4 linked regions of the Homo sapiens genome follow. The protein of the gene in region 2 binds, or shares a complex with, the protein of the main gene of each other region. Each region holds a gene or a part of one and is shown on either strand. Other genes may lie near its edges. The genes, in order: TAF13, TAF3, TBP and TAF11.

Region 1 (7,059 bases), on a different chromosome or scaffold from region 2:
GAAGGGGGGATAGAATATACATGTATAACCTCCATCCTCAATGATAAATAGTAACCAATAACTTCTGCAAACAAGCACTCAAATGGATAGCTTATTTCAAAGGGATGCCATAAGTTCTAGTCTTACCTAAAGTTTAATATTTCAAATCTATTCTTCAATTAACTAAGACCAGTTAGGAAAGAATCTTACCATTTCAGTGATAAACTCTATGACAAGATCTTCAAGAATATCCACTGACTCAGTATAAGGATTCTGGTCATCCCCAAAGCCATACATCATACATCGCACTGTAAAAGAACAATCACTTACTTTTGTTTACTTTTACAGATTTAACAATTTGATACTTTAAAAAAATAAAGTAGAAATGAACCAAGTTATAGATAATATTGGTATGAAAACATATTTACATCGTATTTGTTATCTCCAAGTATGGATTCTTGTGTAAAAGGTTTAAGAACAGTCTGATGACCAACTGTTCCCACGTAGCCTCCAGCAAAACTCTTCCTTCCTCCCACCTACTGAACCCTAAGGTAAACAGTCTTTTCCTAATCTCTAGCATCTACTTACCAGTCCCTGCCCCCAGCAGAACACCTTTAAGTAGGAAACTCTGGCAAAGGACAGGACAGACAGCAACAGCTTAGCCTTTTTTGGAGGTGGTTTTTGTGTGTGGGCATGGCAGTGGGGCGTTGGAAAAACGGCAGACTCTTTACTGATATTACCATAGGGGAAAAGACATGAGAGACAGTTCTCCAAATACTTTTTTTGTTTGTTTGTTTGTTTGTTTTTCTTGAGACAGAGTCTCGCTCTGTCGCCCAAGCTGGAGTGCAGTGGCACCATCTTGGCTCACTGCAAGCTCCATCGCCTCCTGGGTTCACACCATTCTCCTGCCTCAGCCTCCCGAGTAGCTGGGACTACAGGCACCCACCACCACGCCCGGCTAATTTTTTGTATTTTTAGTAGAGAAGGGGTTTCACTGTGTTAGCCAGGATGGTCTCGATGATCTGACCTGGTGATCTGCGTGCCTCAGCCTCCCAAAGTGCTGGGATTACAGGCGTGAGCCACCGCGCCCAGCCCCAAATCTGTTCTTATAGGAAGAAACAGGGTACTCAAAATGAGAAAGCAGAGGGCTTACTACAAGGAATTTTGACATTTCCTAGATCAATACAACTGCAGCAAAGCCCTTTCAGGCTTCATCTGAAGAAACCATAGGAAATGCAAAGGATAAGTCTAGGTCGGGTGCAGTGGCCCACGCCTGTAAACCCAGCACTTTGGGAGGCCCAGGCAAGTAGACTGCTTGAGCTCAGGAGTTTGAGACAAGCCTGGGCAACATGGCGAAACCCTGTCTCTACATAAAAAACAAAAATTAGCTGGGCGTAGGCCTGGATGGTGGCTCACGCCTGTAATCCCAGCACTTCAGGAGGCTGAGGCAGATCACTTGAGGCCAGAAGTTTGAGATCAGCCTGGCCAACAAGGTGAAAACCTGTTTCTACTAAAAAAAAAAAAAAAACACAAAAGTCAGCTGGGGGTGTTGGCACATGCCTATAATCCCAGCTACTCGGGAGGCTGAGGCATGAGAATCGCTTGAATCCAGGAGGCAGAGGTTGCAGTGAGCTGAGAATGCGCCACTGCACTCCAGCCTGGGTGACAGAGGGAGGCTGTGTCTCAAAAATAATAATAATAATAAGAGAGACTGTGTCTCAAAAATAATAAGAGAGAAGTCTAATACAGACAAATAAAAATAACTGCCAAAAGATAAAACATATATAGCCCTTATTATATGCCAGGTACTGTCTTAAGTCCTTTACATATATAACTCATTTAATCCTCACAATGATCCTTTAAGGTAGAAACTATTGATTATCCCCATTCTATAGATGAGAAAATTAAAGCACTGCAGTAACTGATTTACCCAAGGTCACAAAGCTAGTAAGAGATGGAACCTGAGTTTGAACCCAGCTGATCTGGTTCGCGTCTTTACTCATACCCACAACAGCATCGCACTTGTTGGTAGTTGTAGTTTAGGGCAGACAGGATCCGTGTGAATTCTTTTTTTTGCTCTCCTTTTTTGAGACAGTCTTGGCTCTGTCGCCCAGGCTGGAGTGGTGTTGCAGTACAGCTTGCTGCAGCCTCAACCTCCCTGGCTCACGTGAGCAGCTGAGACTACAGACACATGCCACTATGCCTGGCTAATATGTGGGGTTTTTTTTGAAACAGAAGTGTCACTGTGTCACCCAGGGTGGAGTGCAATGGCACGATCTCAACTCACTGCAACCTCCACCTCCCGGATTCAAGAGATTCTCAAACTTTAGCCTCCAAGTAGCTGGGATTACAGCCATGCGCTACCACACCCAGCTAATTTTTTTGTATTTTTTAGTAGAGTCAGGGTTTTGCCACGTTGCCCAGATAGTCTTGAATTCCTGGCCTCAAGTGATCTGCCTGCCTTGGCCTCCCAAATTATTGGGATTACAGGCCTAAGCTACCACACCCAGCCATTTAAAATTTTTTCTAGAGACAGGGGTCTTGCTATGTTGCCTAGGCAGTTTTTGAACTGGTTTCTAACTATTTATTTATTTTTATTTTTTCGTAGAGACAGGGTCCCACCTTGTTGCCCAGGCTGGTCTTGAACTCCTGGACTCAAGTAATCCTCCTGCCTTGGCCTCCCAAAGTGCTAGGATTACAGGTGTGAGCCACCACACCCAGCTGAGATCCACAGAGGTTCTTATCCTATCGCCTATAAACTCCCAGTCCAGAGACAAGCTTTAAGAAGTCCTTGAAGGCCAGCGCGGTGGTTCACGCCTATAATTCCAGCACTTTGGGAGGCCAAGGTGGGCGGATCACCTGAGGTCGGGAGTTTGAGACCAGCCTGACCAACATGGTGAAACCCCGTCTCTACTAAAAATACAAAAATTAGGGGGGCGTGGTGGCACGCACCTGTAATCCCAGCTATTTGGGAGGCTGAGGCAGGAGAATAGCTTGAACCCAGGAGGCAGAGGTTGCGGAGAGCTGAGATCATGCCAATGCATTCCAACCTGGGCGAAAGAGGGAGACTCTGCCTCAAAAAATAAAAAAAGAAGTCCTTGAGACTACCCTGAAATCATACGGAAAAATTTTATACATTATCTGTACATGGGCATTTTTCTGGGAATAATTATAACTTTTATCAGATTATCAAAGGGGTATATGTAAATGGTAAGAAATGCTGTCAAATGCTGGAAGTGTTCTGTATCTTGATCTTAGTAGTGATTACAAGTGTGTGAGTGTGTGTGTGTGTGTGTGCGCACATGTATACAGTTGTCCCTTAGTATCCTTGGGAGCTTGGTTCCAGGACCTCCCGTGGATACCAAAATCTGCAGATGCTCAAATCCCAGATATAAAATGGCATAGTATTTGCATATAAGCTAAATACATCCTATGTATATTTTAAATCATCTCTAGGTTACTTACAATACCTAATACAATGTAAATGCTATGTAAATAGTTGTTATACTATACTGTTTAGGGAATAGTGACAAGGAAAAAAGTCTATACATATTCAATAGAGGCACAGTTTTTTTTTCTGAATATTTTCCATCTGAGGTTGGTTGAATCCATGGATGCAGAACCCATGACATAGAGAGCCGACTGTATAGCATACATAAAATTCAGCAAGCTGTTCACTTAAGACTTGCACAATTTATTGTACCTAAGTTTTTTTTTTTAAAAAAGATACTCATAGAATACTTCTAAAGGAAGAAATGAGTAAATTAAGAATAATTCCTCTATTTAGAAGAAGTAAAAACTAGTAGAAGTACAAAGAGAAGAAAGTAGACCAGGCCTACAGAAGAAAAGGGTGACTTGGAAACCAGCCTGAGATAGACATATCCCTAGGGTTTTACACTGGCAAGAGTCTTTAGGTCCAGAAACAGGAGTAAAAAAACAAACACAGGAGCCAATAGTTCCTATCGTTCTGTTTTGGATTCTGTACTTTTTTTTGCCTTTTTAAAAAAAAGATAATTTTAGATTTACAGCTGAGTTGCAAAAATAGTACAGGGTTCCCATATGCCCTATATCCAGCTTCCCCTTATGTTAACATGTTATACAACCATAGGGAGTCATCAAAGCTAAGAAATTAACATCGGTACAGGTACAGACTTCATTCAGATTTTACAAGTTTTTCCACCAATGTCCTTTTTCTGTTTCAGGTTCCCATACTATTTAGTTGTCATGCCTCCTTAGTTCCCTCGAATCCGATAGTTCCTTGACTTTTTCATCTTTCAAAACCTTGACGCTTTCTTTTTTTATTTTTATTTTTTGAGACGGAGTCTCTCTCTGTCACCAGGCTGGAGTTCAGTGGTGTGATCTCGGCTCACTGCAACCTCTGCCTCCCGGGTTCAAGCGATTCTCCTGCCTCTGCCTCTCAAGTAGCTGGGACTACAGGTGCAGGCCACCACGCCCAGCTAATTTTTCTATTTTTAGTAGAGATGGGTTTTCAACATGTTGGCCAGGCTGGTCTGGATCTGCTGACCTCATGATCCGCCCATCTCAGCCTCCCAAAGTGCTGGGATTATAGGCATGAGCCACCGTGCCCGGCCCTTGAGTAGTGGAATTATAGGCATGCACCACCACGCCGAGCTAATTTTTGTATTTTTATTAGAGACGGGGTTTCGCCATGTTGGCCAGGCTGGTCTTGAACTCCTGACCTCAAGTGATCCTCCCACCTTGGCCTCCCAAAGTGCTGGGATTACAGGCATGAGCCACCGTACCCAGTCCCCCCCAAATTTTTTTTTTAAAGGTTCAGGAGAATAGATCTTTCGTCAGTAACTTCTATGAATATTCAGGTAAGATAAGGAGAAGCCTGAAGATTACAAATTCCTGTCATCACAAAGTAATCTCAGTGGAACAAAGGTCTTTGCTAACAACCGACTGAACATCACTCTGGGATGCTCTGGTACAAGGATCCCCTTCTTATGCTGACCTAATAAGTAAAAACCACATAATGGTATAAGGAGCATCAGAGAAATGAAATAAGAAATGGTCAGCATTAGTGAGGAAACAAAATATGGAAAAGGATTTGGATGTTTAAAAAATAAAACAGTGTCTGGCGGCTCATGCCTGTAATCCTAGCACTTTGGGAGGCTGAGGCAGGAGGATCACTTAAGCCTAGGAGTTTGAGACCAGTCTGGCCAACATGGTGAAACTTGTCTTTACTGAAAATACAAAAATTAGTTGGGTGTGGCCAGGCACGGTGGCTCACGCCTGTAATTCCAGCACTTTGGGAGGCCGAGTGGGGTGGATCACCTGAGGTCAGGAGTTCAACACCAGCCTGGCTAACATGGTGAAACCCGTTTCTACTAAAAATACAAAAAATTAGCCGGGCATGGTGGCACACACCTGTAATCCCAGCTACTTGGGAGGCTGAGGCAGGAGAATTGCTTAAACCTGGGAGGTGGAGGTTGCAGTGAGCCGAGATCACGCCACTGCACTCCAGCCTGGGTGACAGAGCAAGGCTCCATCTCAGGAAAAAAAAAAAAAAAAATTAGCTGGGCATGGTGGCATGCACCTATAGTCCCAGCTATTCAGGAGGCTGAGGTGGGAGGATCACTTGACACCAAGAGTTAAAGGTTGCAGTGAGCTATGATCATGCCACTGTACTCCAGCCCCAGTGACAGAAGAGTGAGACCCTGTCTCTAAGAAAATAAATAAAAATTAAGAAAATAATTTTTCTTAAAAAAGATACACTGACGCTGAAGCTGGGCACGGTGGTTCATGCTTGTAATCCCAGCACTTTGGGAGGCTGAGACGGCGGATCATGAGGTCAAGAGATCAAGACCATCCTGGCCAACATGATGAAACCCTGTCTCTACTAACAATACCAAAATTAGCTAGGCGTCGTGGCATGTGCCTGTAGTCCCAGCTACTCAGGAGGCTGAAGCAGGAGAGTCGCTTGAGCCCAGGAGGCAGAGGCTGCAGTGAGCCAAGATTGCGCCATTACACTCCAGACTGACAACAGTGAGACTCTGTCTCAAAAAGAAAATATATATATATATATATACACACATATATATATATATATATATATATATATATATACACACACATATATATATATATATATATATACACACACATATATATATATATATATATATATACACACACATATATATATATATATATATATATATATATATACACACATATATATATATATATATATATATACTGACCCTGTAGTTTCAAGGGCATTTGGGAACTGCTCACATATAACCCAGCCTAAATAAATCATATTCATAAATCTGTGCGGCCTCATCTCTCAATACTTAGACATAACTTTACATAAAGGACCCAGGACTGGGAGATGGAGAGCACATTTTCATGCTGTGTTCCAGGGCTTGGCCTGGATCATCAGTATTAGTAGCAGCTCTCCCTTCCTCGTGTTGCCAAAAAGGGTCAAAACCGTCTACTGAGGGGGTAGGATGGAGAATCAATACATTATAATCTCCATGTTATTGTTTATTTTATTTGTTTATTTATTTTGGACACAGGGTCTGGTTTCGTCACCAAGGCTGGAGTGCAGTGGTGCAATCTGGGCTCACTGCAACCTCCACCTCCTGGGCTCAAGCCATCCTCTCACCTCAGCCTCCAGAGTAGCTGGAACTACAGGGGCATGCCACCATGCCCTGCTAATTTTTGTATTTTTTGTAGAGAGAGGGTTTCACTATGTTGCCCAGGCTGGTCTTGACCTCCTGGGCTCAAGCAGTCCGCCTGCCTTGACCTCCCGAAGTGCTGGGATTACAGGCGTGAGCCACTGCATCTAGCCTCCATGTCACTATAATGCCTTACACGATTCACCACCTTTTTTTTTTTTTTTTTTAAGACAGAGTCTTGCTGTGTCACCCAGGCTAGAGTGCAGTGGCGCAATCTTGGCTCACTGAAACTTCTGCCACCTGGGTTCAAGCGAGCACGTCTGGTTAATTTTTGTATTTTTAGTAGAGACGGGGTTTCATCATGTTGGCCAGGCTGGTCTCGAACTCCTGACCTCCAGTGATCCACCCGCCTCAGTCTCCCAAAGTGCTGGGA
Region 2 (6,627 bases):
TTTCTCTTTGCAGTTTCTTGAACTTCCTTTGGTTGGTGTCACAGCCAGCCACCCAGTAGAGACTGAGACCACCAGTTCATTTCACACAGGCCACTGAACAGTCATAAGATGGTGACAACTTTTGGTCTCTAGTGACCTGGACTGGATCCGACTCACTGACCTAGAGGTGAAAGGCTCTGTATTCCATTACTAATCCCTCGAGCTCTCCAGCCCCCTGAAAATGATTCTTTGGTTTTATTATTGCAAAGACCATTTATAAAATCATGAACTGGATTTAGGAAAGCAACCATGAAATAGCAAGGGACAACAAACTGATTGAAATTCCTTAAATGTAGCATGGGCTGAAGTCTCTCAGACAGTAAGATTGGGGGGAAAGTTATATATAGGCACCTCCATTCTGATTTCAGTAGCGTGACCTGCTCACTTAAACGTGGCAACTTCAGATCATGGACCACGCCTCAAGGAACTAAATCCTAAATAAAGAAAATGGAAAAGCAAACTATGAAATAGCCAATAATCTTTATTTTGCACTTCCCCCACCCCTCACCCCTCTCCAAAAACCACTAACGCGCATTTTTGTGCATGTGAAAATATTGTATAAAGTATTTAGAATGATCTCAAATTAATCAAACAAAAAAACACATATCTCAACATAGATGCTTTGTTTCTTAGCGGGGATAGAAAAATTCTGGCCTCTTGAACAACGAGGGCAATGACACCCTGTGCTCCGAAGAGGTCGACTCCATTTCCACTGATTTGCAACTTAACATTCATGGCAGAAAACCGCATTTCTCTAACCACATAATGTTTTAAAATATGACTAATTCATACACTAATATCAATTTACTTGGCATTTAAAAAAATCACATTTTCTAGTAATATATTTGTATTAGGTTCAAAGCCCATATTCTAGCATCCAACAGATCCAGCACATGGGCCTACACTGGGATTATTTCAAAATCAAGTAAAAGTCCGTATTTATCCCAAAGTTGCTAAAATATGCTAATAAAGTTAAATTTGATGTTTTTTTAACATTAAAAATAAAATATTTGGTTTACCTCTCAGACATCTATAACATATAATAAATAGTGGGCAGTATAATAATATAATAAAGTTTTGTGATACCCTGAAATTTGATGAGTTTTCTTAAAAAAATTCATAATATACTTCATTTCAGCCTTAAAGCACAATATTAATGAACAGATTTGTAGAAATAAAACAATATAAAGACAAAATGCTACAGTATATGTGGGTTTTTTGTTGTTTTTTTTTTTTACTTTCATGGAAACTACATGTCCTTTTAGTAAAAGTCTGTCAAAGAAATTTACAAAAACAAAATAGACAACAAACAAAACAACTTCAAGTCATAAACTCTAAATTTAAATTGCCTTGTTTTCCTTCCAACTGCTCGGGCCCTTTCCCCACCATGTTTCCGGGCACTGCGCAGGCTGAGCTCAAGGGAAATTTCTTTGAACGATGGCTTTTTCTCTAGCCTTGTTTCTGTCCAGCGTCATTACAGACCTGGCTGAAATCACAGTGGATTTCAGAGAAAGCCAGAATTAAACACGATAAAAATTTAAAAAATAACTACTTCATAAATATTTATTATTTACATTAGGGGCAATCTTTTAGTCTGAAGAGTTTTTATACAAGTTGATGAAATGTACAAGCAGTGAGAAGAGACTCCAGCAGTTTAAAGAAGGGCAAAATTAGAATGCAACGAAGATATAAAATACATTAAACAAAAATAATTTGCACAAAAGCAAACAGGACATGATAGAAACCTTTTTCTTAAAAAATATAAGGTATTTCACAAAAGCCTGAACATTTTACATGTTAGTACTAAAAACGGGGGAAGGAGGGAAGCTTCATATATTCTTATCACAAAAATATTTACCGGTACTCCAACTGGAGTTTTCTTTTATGTTATTCTGATTATCTTACTATAGAGGGAAAGGGGCTGAAAACTGTATACAGACTCTATCATCCTTAAATTACAGTTGAGGCAGTTTGTACATTATCTTCTCATCTAATACCTCAATGAAAAGGCCCTGGAGAGAATAAAGGAAATCAAAAGGGAAGATGTACGCTCTTTATTAATAATACTTGTCACTGGTATTAGAGAAGTGGAGGAGGGGCAGCCCCCAGGCCACGCCTCTGCTTGAGTTTCCTTCTGTCGCACTGCCACGGAGCCACAGGCCAAGGCGGCTCGGGAGTGAACAATCCAGGTGCGCGGTGTGTTCCAGCCTCAGTCCTCCTGGGTTCTTTATCCACAGGCATCTGGGGGTGGATGTGACGGCAGACTTGCACCAGCTCCCTTCCAGAGGCGCCAGGGAAGAAGCCCGGGCTGACCCCGCTTGGTCCAGCCCCTCGGGAGTCGTCAGTGGGCTCGATGCTTCCTCTTCTTGTGCTTTTTGTCCTTCTTCTTGTTCGCACACTTGGGGCAGAACCACTGCATCTCTTCTGGGGGTGCAGTCATGATTCCAACACAGGGCCTGCACGTGAAAACAAGCTCAGATAAGCAACTTTTATACAGACATCTATTCTTCTCCCTTCCATGTTTTAAAGTAATTTTTTAGAGTCTATGACATGTTTACCCGAAATCAAAGTCAAGCAGCACTAACTTGTGTGTAGCACTATTGTTGGGCATGCGGACTATGAGATCACAGATGCTCCCTTTACAGGCCCCCTGCAGAGACTCATCCGTTCATTCATCCTCTCAGCCAGGAATAGAAGTCTTCCGAGCCACGGCTTTGTCTTTATCTCACAGATATCGTCTATCATAACTGAACAGGTTGCTATCTTTTTTGTATCTGACATTTTAAAGATAACACGAGATTATCTGCATAAATTCTGGTTGAGCTTTTCAGTTTTTAGGAACCGCTGAAGAGGTCTAAAAAACAGATAAGCAGTCTTTAGTCCTGCAGTTTGTACCACCTTTACAAAGGCGCTGCCTCTTCGTGGTCCTGGCCAGTGCTACAGCTCCTACAGAACATTACTGGAAAGGAAGGCCAGGGAAGCCCCTGGATCTCCTTTTAGTATTATTATTTTTAATAAGAAGGATAGATAAGCTAAGCAGAATATTCAGAATTTAGGGTGAATAACAATAGTCTAAGCACTCTTGGGTTTTGCAGTTAATTGCACTTCACAGGCTCAGTGATTTGACTCCATGTACTGTCCCTAGGACAGCCCTGGGTCAGTCCAAAGGCAGGAATCTACTCAGTGGATGCTTCATCTCAGGAGCGGCTGATGCTGCCTAATGAGTGTGGCCGGCAGGGCGCCCTGGGCACTCACCAGTGGTACCAGTCATCGCAGTCGTCACACCCAATCATGGGACTCCCATCGTCAGGCTTGTTACACCCAGGGCAGATCCAGATCTGATTGCCCCACTCATCTCGGATCTGATGTTTGCAAAGCGGAAGCGGCAAAAATGGAGGGAATGGGAAAAAAAACAAAAAGAGGCCAGATCAGAATGATTACTTTATACTGTTAACCGAATAAACAGGCATATTAAACTAAAAAATATAGTAGATCAGCACTTCATTAATGCCATGATCAGCGTCATCACTGTTTTAGAATCAAGAAACAGAAAAACGCTAAGTGTTCAATGATAAGGCATTTCTAACGAATATTCTAAGCTTTCTTTTGTAAGTCATAAAAAGCATTTTATAATCATCTCTGTGAACAATATGACCTGTAACCCCTTTCATAAAAAAAAAAACTATAACTATGTAAATTCTTAATGATTTGGGTCTTTATAAGGGTGGTAACAACTGATTTTTTGAAAGTTATAGAGCTCCACTTTATATGTGGTTTTCTCAATCGCATTCATAGGCATGGAATTAATATAGACAGCCAAATGTGCATGCACCACCTTATTACTTATTAGCCAAGCCCTTCTCCTGAAGGAGCTGATAAGATCAAGGATATAAAAGAGTTGTTACTAAGTAACTTTCCATTCCCTTTATGACATTTTTAGTAAAGTACAATCAACTAAAGGGCAAATGAAATAAGGGGATAGGGAGGCCACAGAGCTACAAGGTTCAACATTATTTTGCTACAAATATTGTGTACTCTAGAGTTGACTTTATTTAACTTAGCAGTTCTAAAGAGGGAACATCCTATTCACCACTTCCTCAAACTTCACATGAACAGAGCCAACCTGGAAGAATTAATTCACTGATGGGCATTCAACACCAGCAATAAGAAAAAGGTAACTTCCAAAGTGTTTACAATAACAGAGCACATTATTGCATCCGGTTTATTTTGTAAGGGATAGTTCTTCCCAGACTTTCAAATACCACACTGACTAGACATGCTTTTAGAAAGGCTTTCTTTGTGTGTGACAGGTGCATTGGGGGTCCATATATGTTTCACTGTAGTGATGGGCTTCCTTTAAGGCAACTCTACAAAGGCAAACTACATTGACAGGAAAACTTCCTAAAGAAATCTGTGGGCAACTACATCTCTGACCCTCCGTAATTCCAGGAGAAAAAGTAACAAGGGGTGAGAACCAGCAGTCACCCGTACCTGCTGTCTAGAGGCCAAGGCTGGTGGAACATCCTATGCCCTGAAGCTCCCACGTGTGGCCAGTCCTGCTGCTGGCTGACCTTGCTTGAAGTCAGAAGGCCGTGACTCTGTGTGCCGCACAAGAACTTCACCACGGCATCCACAGCAACTAATACCAAATACCTCATAGCTTACTAAATTCTTCTAAACATCTCATTTCATTTAATCCCTGTAAAACAACCTCTGGGTAGCTTATGAATGGGGAAACCGGAGCTAAGGGAATTTAAGTGGCATTTCCAACATCACACCATTAGGCAGTGACAAAATTTGCCTTTTTGCTCTCTAGCCTTTGTATGTCATCTAAATCATAAATTTTGTCCTCTAACCACAAAGCGTCTCTCTTCATGAGGTAGAAAGCTTTTTTTAAATTTTCATTTTTATTTTAAAGACAGGGTTTCACTCTGTCACCCAGGCTGGAGTGCAGTGGTGTGATCATGGCTCACTGTAGCCTTGACCTCGGTAGGCTCAGGTGATCTTCCCAGCTCAGCCTCCTGAGTAGTTGAGACTACAGGCACATGTCACCCTGCCCAGCCAATTTTTGTATTTTCTGCAGAGATGGGGTCTCACTATGTTGCCCAGACTAGTCTCAACTCCTGGGCTCATGTGATACAGCTGCCTTGGCCTCCCAAAGTGCTGGGATTATAGGCGTGAGACACCATGCACAGCCAGTAAGCTTTCCATCTACATTGTCTATTCCAGTTGGACTCATCTCCAGGAAGTGAGTTAGCTCAAAGATCTACTGGAAAACCAGAACTTTTAGAGCTAGAACATGCCACAGAGATTACCAAGTTTAACACAAACTCCTTAATTACAGATGAAGACACGAAGGTCAAGGAGGTTAAGTACAAAATCTTTCCTGATCAACCCATTTGGGGGTGATGTTGCCTCTAATTAAACACCTACAATGATTGGTCCCCGAATGGACCAATTTGATGATCACACTTTTAGAAGTTCCTTCCAAAACTCCTTTAAGGAAATTTAATAATAGGCCAGGCGTGGTTGCTCATGCCTGTAATCCCAGCACTTTGGGAGGCCAAGGTGGAAGGACTGCTTGAGCCCAGGAGTTTGAGACCAGCCTGGGCAACACAGAGAGACATCATCTCCACAAAAACCAAAAACAAACAAACAAAAACAGCCAAGAAACAGCCAGTTGTGGTGGCAGACGCCTGTGGTCCCAGCTACTCGGGAGGCTGAGGTGAGGGGATCACTGGGGCCCAGGAGGTCGAGGCTGCAGTGAGTGGTATTGTGCCACTGCATTCCAGTATGGACAAGAAGAGTGAGACTACCTCAAAAGAAAAAAAGAAAACATAAAAAAAAGAAATGTAATATTGTACAGTTTATAACAACAAATACCATGAGTCCTACCCAGCCACTTTCCAATCATATTAGTACCTAGCTAGTTACAAGGTCAGGGCCACCAGTAGGCTAACACATCACAGTCTGCAGAGTTGGTAGTCACAGCAATGGCAATGGCTCCACACACCTTAAATATTTCGTTGTGTGTTTGTGTGTTTAATTCTATAGTATCCAAAGAACGTAATCTGTATAAACACTTTACTGCCAGAGTGTATTCAGGGAGTAAGAAACTAAAAAACAGTCCCAGAACAATGTGGACTCAGTGGACATGGTGGGATTTACAATTTTTTTTTTTCTTGAGATGGAGTTTCGCTCTTGTCCCTCAGGCTAGAGAGCAGTGGTACGATCTTGGCTCACTGCAAGCTCTGCCTCCCGTTCAAGCAATTCTTGTGCCTGAGCCTCCCGAGTAGCTGGGATTACAGGCACGTGCCACCATGCCCAGCTAATTTTGTTTGTATTTTTAGTAGAGATGGGGTTTCACCATGTTGGCCAGGCTGGTCTCGAACTCCTGACCTCAAGTGATCCATCTGCCTCAGCCTCCCAAAGTGCTGGGATTACAGGCGTAAGCCACTGCGTCCAGCTGGTTTTACAATTTGAAATCATGCTTGGATACTCAGGAGTTCTGTGGTCTCAAAGTTCATTTCCATTTAATATGCAAGCCCTGGCATATTCTGGATCATAGCCAATAAAATATAATTAGTG
Region 3 (7,059 bases), on a different chromosome or scaffold from region 2:
GAAGGAAAATTGCAAAAAGTTTAGAAATCAAGAGCTTTGTGTGCTTTTAGATAAAATGAGGACCTGTACAAGGAAAAATACTGAATAAACAAACTAGTCAAGAGGTAAAACACAGTTCTTCAAGCAGCATCAAAGGATAGAATAGAATAATTAAAGCAAGTGAGGCCGACTTGTAGTCGTCAGTTGATAACCACTGGATGGAAGGCTATTTGTCCTCCTATCACTTTACCCTATTTCTATTGAATCTGGATTTTCTGATTTAAGAAAAAGAGCCCTGTAGTTATGTCTGCAGTCTCTATATCATTAGATATAATGATATCTAATGCAGATAATAATCCTTTACTTTTACAGTCCTAATAATTACTATTACAGTCCTAATAATCATTTACTTCTAAGATCCAATACTGACAGTTTAACTTTTAATCATATCTTACCTCCTTAAATTGAAATATTCTCTAGCTGACAATTGTGGTCAGGAAATTTAATCAAACTTATATACTAGCCTGAGAATTAACCTATACCTGATTAAGCTGTCTGACTGAATGGACTATTGGTATATATTCTTTTTTTTTTTGAGACGGAGTCTTGCTGTGTCGCCCAGGCTGGAGTACAGTGGCACGATCTTGGCTCACTGCAACCTCCATCTCCTGGGTTCGAATGATTGTCCTGCCTCAGCCTCCCATGTAACTGGGATTACAGGCATGCACCACCATGTCCAGCTAATTTTTGTATTTTTAGTAAAGACGAGGTTTCACCATGTTGGCCAGGCTGGTCTTGAACTCCTGAACTCAACTGATCTGCCTGCCTCGGCCTCCCAAAATGCTGGGATTACAGGTGTGAGCCACCAGGCCAGGCCTGGTACATATTCTTCTAAGCCTAGTAATCTCATTTTTCTCAGTTCGGAGAGACTGAAAACAGGATGCCTCTGTTTCTGTGTGTCTGACCTAAGACAAAATTCAGGACAGGCTTCTCTGAGGAAGAGTGGAATGGGTAGACATATGGAACTCAAGTGGGAGCTTCCTAGGTGAAAAGGGAAATGAGCATACTAGGCATAAAAGTGGCAAGTGCAAAGGCCTAGGGCAGGAGGAACCAAGTGAGCCCCAGGGGCACACAGAACTAATGTGCCTGTGAACAGACACCAGAAGACCATGAGATGAAGCAGTGAGGTGGGCAGGGCTGCCTGCCTGTGAGTCTTCACCTGCAAGTAGCAGGGAAGATAATTAGAAAGTTGTTCCTATCGCTCAACTTCACACTTTGCTGGTAGATCTGACACAATGTTGACTAAAAGAGAAGATCCAAACTGGGAAAAAAAATTGATACAAGGTTAGGGTCAATTCATGCATTCCAAGTGTATTCAGCAATAAAACGATAAAACATACAGAAGTAGAATCAAATTCATTCCAGTAAAGGGGAGTTATGGGTACCGCAAAGTGATAAGGGAAGCAGAGGCTGGTGAGGGTGATAAATATGACTGAGAACATCAGGAAGACAATGCAAGAATACATACAACTATAACCATGTCAACTGTTCTCATATACTGAATATTTTGCATGTGTTTTATTCTGAACAATGTTTAGATTATAAATGAACTGTTGCCAATAACAATCATAATACATTTCAGACTTACCTACTAAATTGTTGGTGGGTGAGCACAAGGCCTTCTAACCTTATAGGAAACTTCACATCACAGCTCCCCACCATATTCTGAATCTTGAAGTCCAAGAACTTAGCTGGAAAACCCAACTTCTGTACAACTCTAGCATATTTTCTTGCTGCCAGTCTGGACTGTTCTTCACTAGGGAAAGGAAAAAAGTGAGTTATTCATACTCAGAGCCAGCTAAAATACTTATTTAGACTAATAACTTATAAAAAGTCCAAAACAGTAAACTAATAAAGTGTAAACTGGTCAGCCTTCTTGCAATAGGAGAAAAGACTGACAGGCATTCACAATTCCTTATAAAGTATTCCTGGATCCTTGACAGAAAACTGTAGGCCTGCCAAAATGACCTTTCAATCCGCCAAATTATTGTAGCCCTAGATTTTATGGATGTGAATTATCACCATCATCAGTCATCACTATTTCTGTATTTTAGCCCATGCATTTCTACTGAGAGGAAAACTAACAAACTTCATTTTGATCAGAAAATGTTGATGAGATTTATTATTGAACAATGTATTCACTAATTCTATCCTCTTTTATACCAAGACTCATCATGAATAGACATTCCTATGTCATTTGTTGAATAAACTACGACTTAGCAGTTCAGAGCTTACATAAGAAAAGCAGAATGTGGGCCAGGCATGGTGGCTCACGCCTCTAATCCCAAGCACTTTGGGAGGCCAAGGCGGATAGCTCACCTGAGGTCAAGAGTTCGAGACCAGCTTGGTCAACATGGTGAAACCCTATCTCTACTAAAAATACAAAAATTAGCTGGGCATGGTGCCAGGCACCTGCAATCCCAGCTACTTGGGAGGCTGAGGCAGGAGAATCACTTGAACCTGGGAGGTGGAGGTTGCAGTGAGCCAAGATTGTGCCACTGCACTCCAGCCTAGGTGACTCCACCAAAAAAAAAAAAAAAAAAAAAAAAAAAGAAAAGGAAAGAAAGAAAGAAGAGAAAAAAAGAAAAAATAAAAGAGAAAAAGGCAGGCAGGCAGGTCGGGCACGGTGGCTCACACCTGTAATCCCAACACTTTGGGAGGCTGAGGCAGGCGGATCATGAGGTCAGGAGATTGAGACCATCCTGGCTAACACAGTGAAACCCCATCTCTACTAAAAATACAAAAATTAGCCAGGCATGGTGGTGGGCACCTGTAGTCTCTGCTACTCGGGAGGCTGAGGCAAGAGAATGGCGTGAACCCAGGAGGCGGAGCTTGCAGTGAGCCGAGATCATGCCACTGCACTCCAGCCTGGGCGCAGAGCGAGACTCCATCTCAAAAACAACAACAACAACAAAAAAGAATGTGAAAATATTACCATAAAGAGACTATCAGGTGCAGGGGATCAGGAAGAACAAAAATCAAGCATATATATATATGCTACGCTTTTAAATTTCAGGTAAATGTATTGGTGGTTTCTTGTCTTGATGAAATAGTCATCCAACTACATATACAATATTCAGTTTTCAGATGCTCTGGGACAAAAAGGCTAAATGCTGCATGAAAAGCTTGCCTTGATAAACCAAAAGTTTCTGATGTTCCATGCAGGGGAAAACAAGCAAACAAAAACGCTCTTAATTAAAGAGGTTACTACTGCATGTTGTGGCCAAGGGGAAGTGAAAGGCAAGAACACATCCTTGTCCTGCATTCTGAAAAACCTCGGAGATCAGGAGCCAGAATGTCCACACCAATGGCATTCCCATCACTGAAAGACAATTTCAAACTTCAGAATAAGCAAAAATATCCACAGCCCCCTTCTATGTGTTGATACCTCCAAGTACATTTAATACTCTTTCATTTAAAAAGTTTTAGTTTATTTGTTCAGTTCATTTATGAAGCTAATGTCACTAATTTTCCCCCTAGTTTTTGACTTCTACCAAGTATATAAGCTCTGTTTAGAACAGTCAGGGCCGCAGAGTACTAACCTTCAGACAGGATCACTTCAGATGGAGAATATAGGCAATGACATTTTATAACAAGGGTGCATTCCTTAAGATCTGCACAACTCAAACACTATTAATGAAAGCTAGTTCCAGTGAGAAGGCAGGTTTCTGCAGCCAACACATGTGATGCTGTCACGCTGCCAGGCCCAATAAGGTCTGCAAAGCCCTTACACCATTAGCTTAGAAGTGTTTTAATTCTTGATCAATTTTTTCTTCCATTTCAAGATGTATTTGTGTTATTTACAACATTTTTCACATAAAGGGAATTTTATTAATAGTTCTGATGTTGTATTACATCTTACCTAATTTTTTTCTTTTTTCTGGAGAAAGTGTCTTGTTCTGTCTCCCATGCTGGAGTACAGTAGCATGATCTCAGCTCACTGCAACCTCCACCTCCCGGATTTAAGCGATTCTCGTGCTTCAGCCTCCCAAGTAGCTGGGACTACAGACATCCACTACCACGCCTGGCTAATTTTTGTATTTTTAGTAGAGATGGAGTTTCACCATGTTGGTCAGGCTGGTCTCGAACTCCTGGCCTCAAGTGATTTGCCCGCCTTGGTGAGACACCACGCCTGCCCATATCTAATTTTTAAGAAAATGAAATCACTGCTATCTAACATTAATAGAATCAAATAATAAATAAATAAATAAAAATAATTAATAGAATCATATTAAAATGGTTTTTATAAGAAAGCAATAATAACATGTTAAAGTGCTAACCTAATAACCTAAAAACAATGAGATATCACCTTTTCATTCATAACCCATAGACCAGAAGAATGAATTTCTTACGGCTACCTCTTGGCTCCTGTGCACACCATTTTCCCAGAACTGAAAATCAGTGCCGTGGTTCGTGGCTCTCTTATCCTCATGATTACCGCAGCAAACCGCTACAATGGTCAGAGAGAATCATTAGTGAGGTCATGCCAAACTGCTCAATGTTGTTAGGCGAACCACCCATTGACAAAAAAATCACAACTGGTAGGAAGGACATAGTACATCTAGTTATCAAAATATTTGTTCTGTATTTCTGTATATCTGTAAAGGATTTGCATACACCACATGTAACAAATATTCCTTTGCATAAGGAGCAGAAAATAATCAATTGTGACTAAGTTATACCAAATCTGTATGTTCTTTCACATGAGCATTCCATCAAGAGAAATGTTTGCAAAATTTGGTTATGTTCTCAATAAATACAAGTGCTTCTGTTTCTACTTTATATTTGCTGCTTATCATGACTATAGCTTCTCTGATACATTTTGTTTTATTAATATGAATTTTGAGGCAAATAAACCAATAAACCTTTTCTACCTTAATGGAATTAATAAATCAGATTACAAGCCTATCAATACGTAATGAAGTAAAATCATGCTTTCAATTGGTCTTTAGAAACAATATTAATGTATTAAACACATAAATGCAAATTAGGAAAAAAACACAGTTTTAACTTTTATTTTCTGCTTTTTATGCTTGAAACATGTTAATTCTTTCAGAAAATTTTCTTGCTAAGGTGGTAACTCAAGGGGAAAATATTTCAACTGTGGGTTGAATTAATGGCCTCAGTTATTAGGTACATGATAAAAAGCAAATAATTACTTTGAAACAACTTAAATATTTTAATACATTTAATTATACAATAAAAACCTACATGTTTCTAATTAAGACGACTCTTTGACAAACTAGATTGCTTTAACAATTTTATTTTTTTATTTTATTAATTTTTTTTTTTAGAGACAAGAGTCTCACTTTGTTGCCCAGACTGGAGTGCAGTGGTGCAATCATGGCTCACTGCAGCCTCGAATTCCTGAGCTCAAGAGATCCTTCTGTCTTGGCCTCCCAAGTAGCTGGGATTATAGGTGTGTGCCACCAACCCCAGATAATTTTTTAAATTTTCTGATGAAACAAGGCCTTGCTATGTTGCCCAGGCTCGTCTTGAACTGTTGGCCTCAAGTGATCCTCCCACCTTGGCCTCCCAAAGTGCTGGAATTACAGGTCTGAGTCACCATGCCTGGCTTTTAACAATTTTAGTTTAAAACCTGCTCTATGTCTTCCCTGTGATTTTATCAACATCTAAAAAAGCTAGCAGTATATAGTAGTTTATATACGTCCCAGGAAAAGCCTAGCTATTTTGAATTTCCAGAATTTCCTCTACTATTTTTATTGGTTAAATATCACTTAAGAACGTAAAGTAATAAAATTATGTATTCAACTAAATGTGATTATAATAGATGAAAGATTAATTCTTAGAATGCTACATGTCATACAGACTCATTATGAGTGGTTAAAAGGTGATTTTCAGACCCTTAGCTGTCTTTCAGATCTCAGGCATTATGTTTCAGGGATTTTAAAATGCACCCTAAGTCCATTACTTAACATTTCTCTCAACCCAGCTAATGTTTATCCAAATTACTTTGCCTACTATAGCTGGCTAACATCATCCCTATACATATACAAAATTCTTCACATGATCCCAATACAATACATATATAACTTAGCTTATTTTATAGACTGCTGTACTCCCAGGGATTCTTATATCACAGACACTCAATAAAAGATACAAAACAATGCACATTTTACTTTAGATCTTCATTTTATTGGTGTCAAGGAATAAGCATAACACAAACTCTTTGATATACAGATTTTTTTTTTGAGGCGGAGTCTCGCTCTGTTGCCAGGCTGGAATGCAATGGCGCAATCTCCGCTCACTGCAACCTCTGCCTCCCAGGATCAAGTGATTCTCCTGCCTCAGCCTCCCAAGTAGCCGGGATTACAGGCGCATGCCACCACTCCCGGCAAATTTTTGTATTTTTAGTAGAGACGGGGTTTCACTATGTTGGCCAGGATGGTCTTGAACTCCTGACCTCAGATGATCCGCCCACCTCGGCCTCCCAAAGTGCTGGGATTACACGTGTGAGCCACCAAGCCCGGCCAATTTTTTTTTTTTTTTTAAGAGACAGGGTCTTGCCATGTTGCCTGGGCTGGTGGTGAACTCCTAGGTTCAAGAAATTCTCCTTCCTCAGCCTCCCAAAGTGCTGGGATTACAGGCATTAGCCACTGTGCCTGGCCTGATCTACAGACATTTGTTTTATAGCGTGAAATACATTAAAATATAGAGACACGGCAGAGGAGACAAAAAAGAAAAAAAAAAGAAATACATTAAAATAGATCTAACCTTGGGATTATATTCGGCGTTTCGGGCACGAAGTGCAATGGTCTTTAGGTCAAGTTTACAACCAAGATTCACTGTGGATACAATATTTCTGTAAGAGATTTAAAAAGAAAACACGACTATTTAAATTACTTAAGTTTCATTGGATGAGGCGTTAGAAATTATGCAGACATCTGATTATTTCAACCAGGCTTTACTTTTTTTTAATTGCTCACATTTATTGTTTAACAAGTATCATGCACATGTTGAGCATTTTATATAGATTATTCCATTTAATACATATAACGC
Region 4 (7,000 bases), on a different chromosome or scaffold from region 2:
ACTAATGAATTAGCACATTAAAAAACATAAATGATAAAATTAAAACATTATTTAAAATGTAAATGTATAACATTACAAAATATGAAAGGCTATAGGCACTAATATGGAGATCTTTAAAGTTATAAAGACATTTAATGTTCAAGTTTAGGCCAAATAAATGTGAAAATCTGAGAAAAATAGGTGATTTTTTAAAGGAAAATACAAACCACCAAACTTGAAGCACAGTTAGAAAACTTGTATAAATCAGTAACTAAAAAGAAATTGAAAAGATTGTCAAAGATAGACTACCTTCATCCCACCTATTCCCATATTCCTGTATGAGTTTAAATTTGAATTCCTCTTTAGGGACAAGTTAAATCTCATTAATGAGTTTTGTAGTATACTTAAGATTCTACATTAAGTCAGAGGGGGTGAAGTTTGGATTTGATTTTTATTATTAAACAGCCAGTTTTTTAAGTTCAGGGGTACATGTGCAGGATGTGCAGGTTTTGTTACATAAGTAAATGTGTGTCATAGGGGTTTGTTGTATAGATTATTTCATCACCCAGGTATTAAGCCTAGTGTCCCTTAGTTATTTTTCCTGATCCTTTCCCTCCTGCCACCCTTCATCCTTCCATATACCCTTCACCCTTCCATATACCCCAGTGTGTGTTCCCCTCTATGTGTCCGTGTGCTGTCATCATTTAGTTCCCACTTATTAGTGAGAACATGCAGTATTTGGTTTTCTGTTCCTACATTAGTTTGCTAAAGATAATGGTCTCCAGCTCCATCCATGTCCCTGCAAAGGACATGATCTCCTTTTTTATGGCTGTATAGTATTTCATGGTGTATACTGGAAAATACATTTTCTTTATCCAGTCTACCATTGATGGGCATTTAGGTTGATTCCATGTCTTTGCTATTGTGAATAGCACTGCAATGAACATAAGTGTGGATGTGTCTTTATAATAGAACAATTTATATTCCTTTGGGTATATACCCAGTAATGGGATTGCTGGGTCAAATGGTAATTCTGTCTTTAGGTCTTTGAGGAATTGTCACACTGCCTTCCTCAATGGTGAACTGATTTATACTCCAACCAAGAGTTTAAAAGCTTTCCTTTGCCTCCACAACCTTGCCAGTATCTGTTATTTTTTGACTTTTGAATAATAGCCATTCTGACTGATATGAGATGGTATCTCATTATGGTTTTGATTTGCATTTCTCTAATCAGTGAAGCTGACCTTTTTTTCACATGATTGTTGGCCACAGGTATGTCTTGTTTTGAGAAGTGTCTTTGCCTACTTTTAAGTGGGGTTTGAACAGGCATTTATTAAACATCCAGCATAAGTAAAATTGCATTAAATGCTGATGGGGGGGAGATATAAATAATAAGAGACAAACCTATCTTCAAAAAGACTAGTAATGTGAAATAAACATTTGCATGAAACAGTAGGATTGAAGAATAAGAACAAAAGAGCACTACGTGTGAGAAGCTCACTTGAAAGTCCCAAATTGAAATAAACACTGTTTTGATGAGAAGGGGCCTCCTTTTTAATATTCTTTCCATGTGGAATCATCAGCAGTAAAGAGATCTATAGATCTGGAAGCAGAAGAGCTGGCTGGATGGAGGGGACTTTGCTGACATCCCCTCTGAAAAATAAGGTCAGAAGAGTGGGCCCGGGGGAGGGTGATTTTCATGATCCATGGCATTTCATTACCCTTGTAAACAGATACTGGAGCTGTGCTCATAGCCAAACTGGAAAACTAGATTATTTAGCAGGTTTTCTTTCCATAGCTGAGCCATAATCTTCCCTTAGGAGAGATACTGTATCTTATCCTTGATGGTACAGTCAGTGCCTAGAACTGAAAAACTACTCAATAAATGGATTTGTTGTTTTGTGATAAGGATGATGTCTTCTTACTTTGCCCAAGCCTGGAAAGTAGGCCAAATATATAATAGAGTTTCTTTCATCTTCCCAGCTCGAGAGTCAGGATGTCTCAGATTTAACAACAGTTGAAAGGGAAGACTCATCATTACTTAATCCTGCAGCCAAAAAACTGAAAATAGATACCAAAGAAAAGAAAGAGAAAAAGCAGAAAGTAGATGAAGATGAGATTCAGAAGATGCAGTAAGTCACTTTCTTATCATTCCCCATTTCGAGGCTCTCACTTGACCACACAAATTTAATAAATTTTTCTTGGTGTTTAAATTTTCTTTTATAAACTCAAAAGAAAATAAAACGATTAATACATTATGGCTGGGCATGGTGGCTCACGCCTGTAATCCCAACACTTTAGAAGGCCAAGGTGGGAGGATTTCTTGAGGCCTAAGTTTGAGACCAGCCTGGGCAACATAGTGAAACCCTTTCTCTAATGTTATGTTATGTTATGTTTTTTTTTTTATTTTTTATTTTTTTGAGATAGAGTCTCACTGTGTCGCCCAGGCTGGAGTGCAATGGTGTGATCTCGGCTCACTGCAGCCTCCACATCCTGAGTTCAAACGATTCTCATGCCTCAGCCTCCCGAGTAGCTGGGACTACAGGCATGCACCGCCATGCCCAGCTAATTTTTGTATTTTTAGTAGAGACAGGGTTTCACTATGTTGGCCAGGCTGGTCTTGAACTCATGACCTCACGTGATCTGCCCGCCTCGGCCTCCCAAAGTGCTAGGATTACAGGCATGAGCCACTGTGCCCGGCCTCTATTTAAAATTTTTTTTTTTTGAGACAGAGTTTCGCTCTCGTTGCTCAGGCTGGAGTGCGGTGGTGCAATCTCTGCTCACTGCAACCTCCGCCTTCTGGTTTCGAGCGATTCTCCTGCCTCAGCCTCCCAGGTAGCTGGGACTACAGGCTCCTGCCACCATGCCTGGCTAATTTTTGTATTTTTAGTAGATACAGGTTTTTGCCATGTTGGCCAGGCGGGTCTCGAACTCCTGACTTCGTGATCCGCCCGCCTCAGCCTCCCAAAATGCTGGGATTACAGGTGTGAGCCACTGTGCCTGGCCAAAAACAATTTTTTCAAATAATTATGTTACAGCATAGAAAATATAAATAGATAAAAAGAAGGCCGAGATCGGTGGCTCACACCTGTAATCCCAGCACTTTGGGAGGCTGAGGCGGGTGGATCACTTGAGGTCAGGAGTTTGAGACCAGCCTGGCCAACATGGTGAAACCCCGTCTCTACTAAAATTACAAAAAATTAGCCAGGTGTCGTGGTGGGTGCCTGTAGTCCCAGCTACTCGGGAGGCTGAGGTAGGAGAATTACTTGAACCCAGGAGGCAGAGGTTGCAGTGAGCCAAGACTGCGCCACTGCACTCCAGCCTGGGCGATAGAGCCAGATGCTGTCTCAAAAAAAATAAATAGATAAGAAGAAAAAATAATTACCTTACCACAGAGATATATCCTGCTTATAAGTTTCAAGATAGTTTCTATACATATATATCTATAAATTTTTTTTTCCACAAATGTCAAATACTGTTTTGTAGCCTATTTTTCACATTAGATATGGTGAATGTTTTCCATGTCACTAATTATACATCTAGGTCATAGTTTTCTTAAAAATAGAAATAGCTTTATTACATTTTCTGATTGTAAAAGTAGTATGGGCTCATTGCAAATAATTCAGAGAATACAGAAAAATAGAAAAAAATCACCCATAAACTCACCACGCAGAGTTCACTCTAAGTATATAGTTGGGTATAATGTTTGGGTATGTACCTTTTCAAAGTTTTTTTAGATGTTTGATATGTATAGCTAAATATTTTCATGTCAGTAAATATGCTCATAAATCATAATTTTTAATGGCTACATTGTATCCCATTATGTTGTTGAACTATAATTTAACCAATCCCTATAGTGCTTCTGGTTGGGTATTTTTACTTTTGACATTATGATGAGGATCTTTGGACATATCTTTGCATACTTGTCCATTACTTCCTAAGATAAACTCCTAGAGGTGTAATTGCTAATTCAAATAGTATGAACATTTTCAAAGGCTTTTCATATGTATTTCCAAATTTCTCTCCAAAAAGGTGTTCCAGTTCACTCTGCCAGCATGTGTTTGTGTCCCATATTCTAATACCATTCTTTTTTTAATAGTGGTCTGATTTATGAAAAATGTTATCTATGAAAATAATATTTCCTTAGTTAATAATGAAGGTTGTTTCCCCCATGTTGATTGACCATTGGTATTTTGGTAAATTTCCTGTTCATGTACTTTGTTCATTTTCAAAAATTGACATGGCCCCTTTATTCATTTGAAAGAATTATACATTAGGAGTATTAACTGTTTCCACATATTTTGCAGATATTTCCCCTAAATCTGTTAATGTTGAAAACTACTGGTTTGATTATAAATTTGTATATTAAATTTTTACCATCAGTGTGAAATTCAATAAGATAGAGTTATGGAGATAGTGTCTAATGCTGCAAACAGTCTGTGTAGTACGATACAGTGACCCAGTGTTGTTCTTTTTGTTAACAGGTAAGAAAAGAAGTTTTTGTTTTACGTTTTCTCAAATTCCTTTGGAGTAGAAGTGTTTTATCTTCATTCCTCAAGGCACCAAGCCTAATGCCATTGACCCCTTTAAGAATTCGTTTTTGAATTGTCTGAAACTTTTATTGACTTCATAATATCTTGAGTATTCGTTCTTATAAGTTAACTTAGTTACCTGGATCTTTGTTTAGAATCCTGGTTTCTTCTTTTTCTGAGGAGCAGCTGAACCGTTATGAAATGTATCGCCGCTCAGCTTTCCCTAAGGCAGCCATCAAAAGGGTAAGGATGGACCACCACACTTCATCTCCATCACGTTTTAGAACTGAACTCAAGAGCCATGTCCATTGGCATTTGAAGTGAGGTGTTAGACAAGTCAGGGGATTATTTAGGTGGGAAAAAAAATGCACTTCAGTTATCTTACCTTTTTCTGTGAATTACTTGGTACTGTGTTCCAAAGCCAGTCTTTGACTATTGTGATCACGGAGTCTTTGTGCTTCTTTCAAGCTGATCCAGTCCATCACTGGCACCTCTGTGTCTCAGAATGTTGTTATTGCTATGTCTGGTATTTCCAAGGTTTTCGTCGGGGAGGTGGTAGAAGAAGGTGAGTAGTGTTGGTTACAAATACTGGATTGTACCTGTGGTGGTCTTATTTTTAAGAATATCTACACAAAGGAGCTTATTAAAGCACCTATGGGAGTTCTCATTTGCACTTGAAGTTGACCAAGTGGGGAGCCCTTTATTTAGGAGAACATGACTGTTATTCCTTGCAAGTTTCAATAACAGATGGTAAGGAACCATCTGGGAAATCCCCTCCCTGATTCCTTTCCTCAGCCCAGGGTGAAAGAAGTAGACTTTGTATTTTCTGCAGTGGACTTTGCTCATTTCTGCTGCCAAAAGTAAAGATACAAGAAAAGCAATCACAGGGGTGACCTGTGTGGGATGGTGAGTTGTCCCTAATGTTGTGATCCCTAGGAACTGCCTGACCCCTTTATTGAGTAAAAAGCCTGGCTGTTTCCCATTGCTACTCTAGCTGGTGAAATTTTTTTTTTTTTTTTGAGCAGGAGATATATACTTTTAAATTATTATTATTTTTTGAGACAGGGTCTCACTCTGTCACCCAGGCTGGAGTGCAGTGGCATGATCTTTATTATTTTTTTTAATATTTTTTATTTTTCCTTTTACAAATCACAAATTAAGATGGTATACAAAATGAGATGGTAACAGTGGTGTGATCATAGCTCACTACAACCTCAAACTCCTGGGCTCAAAGGATCCTCTTGCCTCAGCCTCCCAAGTAGCTGGGACTGTAGGCGTGCACTACCATACCTGGCTAATTTTTAATTTTATTTTTATGTAGTTATTTGAGACAGGGTCTCACTCTGTCACCCAGGCTGGAGTGCCTTGATCATGCGATCACAGCTCACTGTAACAGTTAGCTCCTGGGCTCGGGTGATTCTCCTGCCTCAGTCTGAGTAGTTGAGACCACAGGTGCGCACCACCACCCCTGGCTAACTTTTTAATTTTTTGTAGAGACAAGGTTTGGCCATGTTGCCCAGGTTGGTCTCGAACTCCTAGGCTCAAGCAATCCTCCCACCTTGGCCTCCCTAACTGCTGGGATTATAGGCATGAGCCACAGCATATGGCCTATAGGAAATATATTTTAAACTGTTGTCTATGATAAAGCCTGTTATGAGACGTTATACTAATATTCTCTTAAAAAGGAAAAATGTCTGTTTATTTCCTTAGCAAGCTTAAGAAAAGTTAACAAGAATTACAGGACTCAAAAGGATTATGTGATTAGTAAATTATTGTGTGATAATCAGACTTTCTCCTTACCCTCTGTTTAGCACTGGATGTGTGTGAGAAGTGGGGAGAAATGCCACCACTACAACCCAAACATATGAGGGAAGCCGTTAGAAGGTTAAAGTCAAAAGGACAGATCCCTAACTCGAAGCACAAAAAAATCATCTTCTTCTAGACCAAAGTCTAGAAAGGCCTATGTTACTGACGGAAGAAGTATTGGTTCCAGACTTCCTATAAGACTGTCTGCATTGGTGCTTTAGTATCTCAGGCCTCCAAGGATTCCATGATGATTTTAATGTCTTTCTCAAAACTCTGATATTTGTCACACCTAGAAAGTATGTAGCCTGATTGATACTTGCCTTGACTAAATTTTGGGACCTCTTGGGGCATTTTGAAGTATTTAACTGTCTTGACCAGTTGGAAGAAGATACGTGGGCCATAAGCATCTTCTGGACAGGGGAACTGCTTTCAGAGAGAAAACCTTTCCAAGAGAGTTTTGTTTTGTTTTGGTTTCGTTTTGTTTGAGATAGGGTCTTGCTCTATCACCTAGGCTGGAGTGCAGCGGCATGACTGCAGCCTTGAACTCCTGGGCTTAAGTGACCCTCCCACCTCAGTCTCCTGAGTAGCTAGGACTACAGGCACACACTACTGTGCCCAGCTAACTTATTTTTATTTTTTATGGAGATGGGGTCTTGCTTTGTTGCCCAGGCTGGTCGTGAACT

What was found.
Region 1: TAF3 (region 2) and TAF13 share a complex: the UniProt entries of both Homo sapiens proteins name them as parts of the TFIID basal transcription factor complex.
Region 3: TAF3 (region 2) and TBP share a complex: the UniProt entries of both Homo sapiens proteins name them as parts of the TFIID basal transcription factor complex.
Region 4: TAF3 (region 2) and TAF11 share a complex: the UniProt entries of both Homo sapiens proteins name them as parts of the TFIID basal transcription factor complex.

The regions. Positions count from the first base shown.
Region 1 is NC_000001.11:109,065,946-109,073,004, forward strand, and holds part of TAF13 (transcription initiation factor TFIID subunit 13), read right to left. Parts: intron 288-7,059; coding exon 190-287; intron 1-189. UniProt on the Homo sapiens protein: The TFIID basal transcription factor complex plays a major role in the initiation of RNA polymerase II (Pol II)-dependent transcription.
Region 2 is NC_000010.11:8,010,505-8,017,131, reverse strand, and holds the end of TAF3 (transcription initiation factor TFIID subunit 3), read right to left. Parts: intron 3,402-6,627; coding exon 3,295-3,401; intron 2,496-3,294; coding exon 2,381-2,495; 3' UTR 501-2,380; downstream 1-500. UniProt on the Homo sapiens protein: The TFIID basal transcription factor complex plays a major role in the initiation of RNA polymerase II (Pol II)-dependent transcription.
Region 3 is NC_000006.12:170,564,348-170,571,406, reverse strand, and holds part of TBP (TATA-box-binding protein), read right to left. Parts: intron 6,863-7,059; coding exon 6,775-6,862; intron 4,490-6,774; coding exon 4,398-4,489; intron 1,796-4,397; coding exon 1,628-1,795; intron 1-1,627. UniProt on the Homo sapiens protein: The TFIID basal transcription factor complex plays a major role in the initiation of RNA polymerase II (Pol II)-dependent transcription.
Region 4 is NC_000006.12:34,878,043-34,885,042, reverse strand, and holds part of TAF11 (transcription initiation factor TFIID subunit 11), read left to right. Parts: exon of another isoform or gene 1-1,605; coding exon of another isoform or gene 1,606-1,644; intron 1,645-1,962; coding exon 1,963-2,111; intron 2,112-4,666; coding exon 4,667-4,754; intron 4,755-4,979; coding exon 4,980-5,076; intron 5,077-6,322; coding exon 6,323-6,453; 3' UTR 6,454-7,000. UniProt on the Homo sapiens protein: The TFIID basal transcription factor complex plays a major role in the initiation of RNA polymerase II (Pol II)-dependent transcription.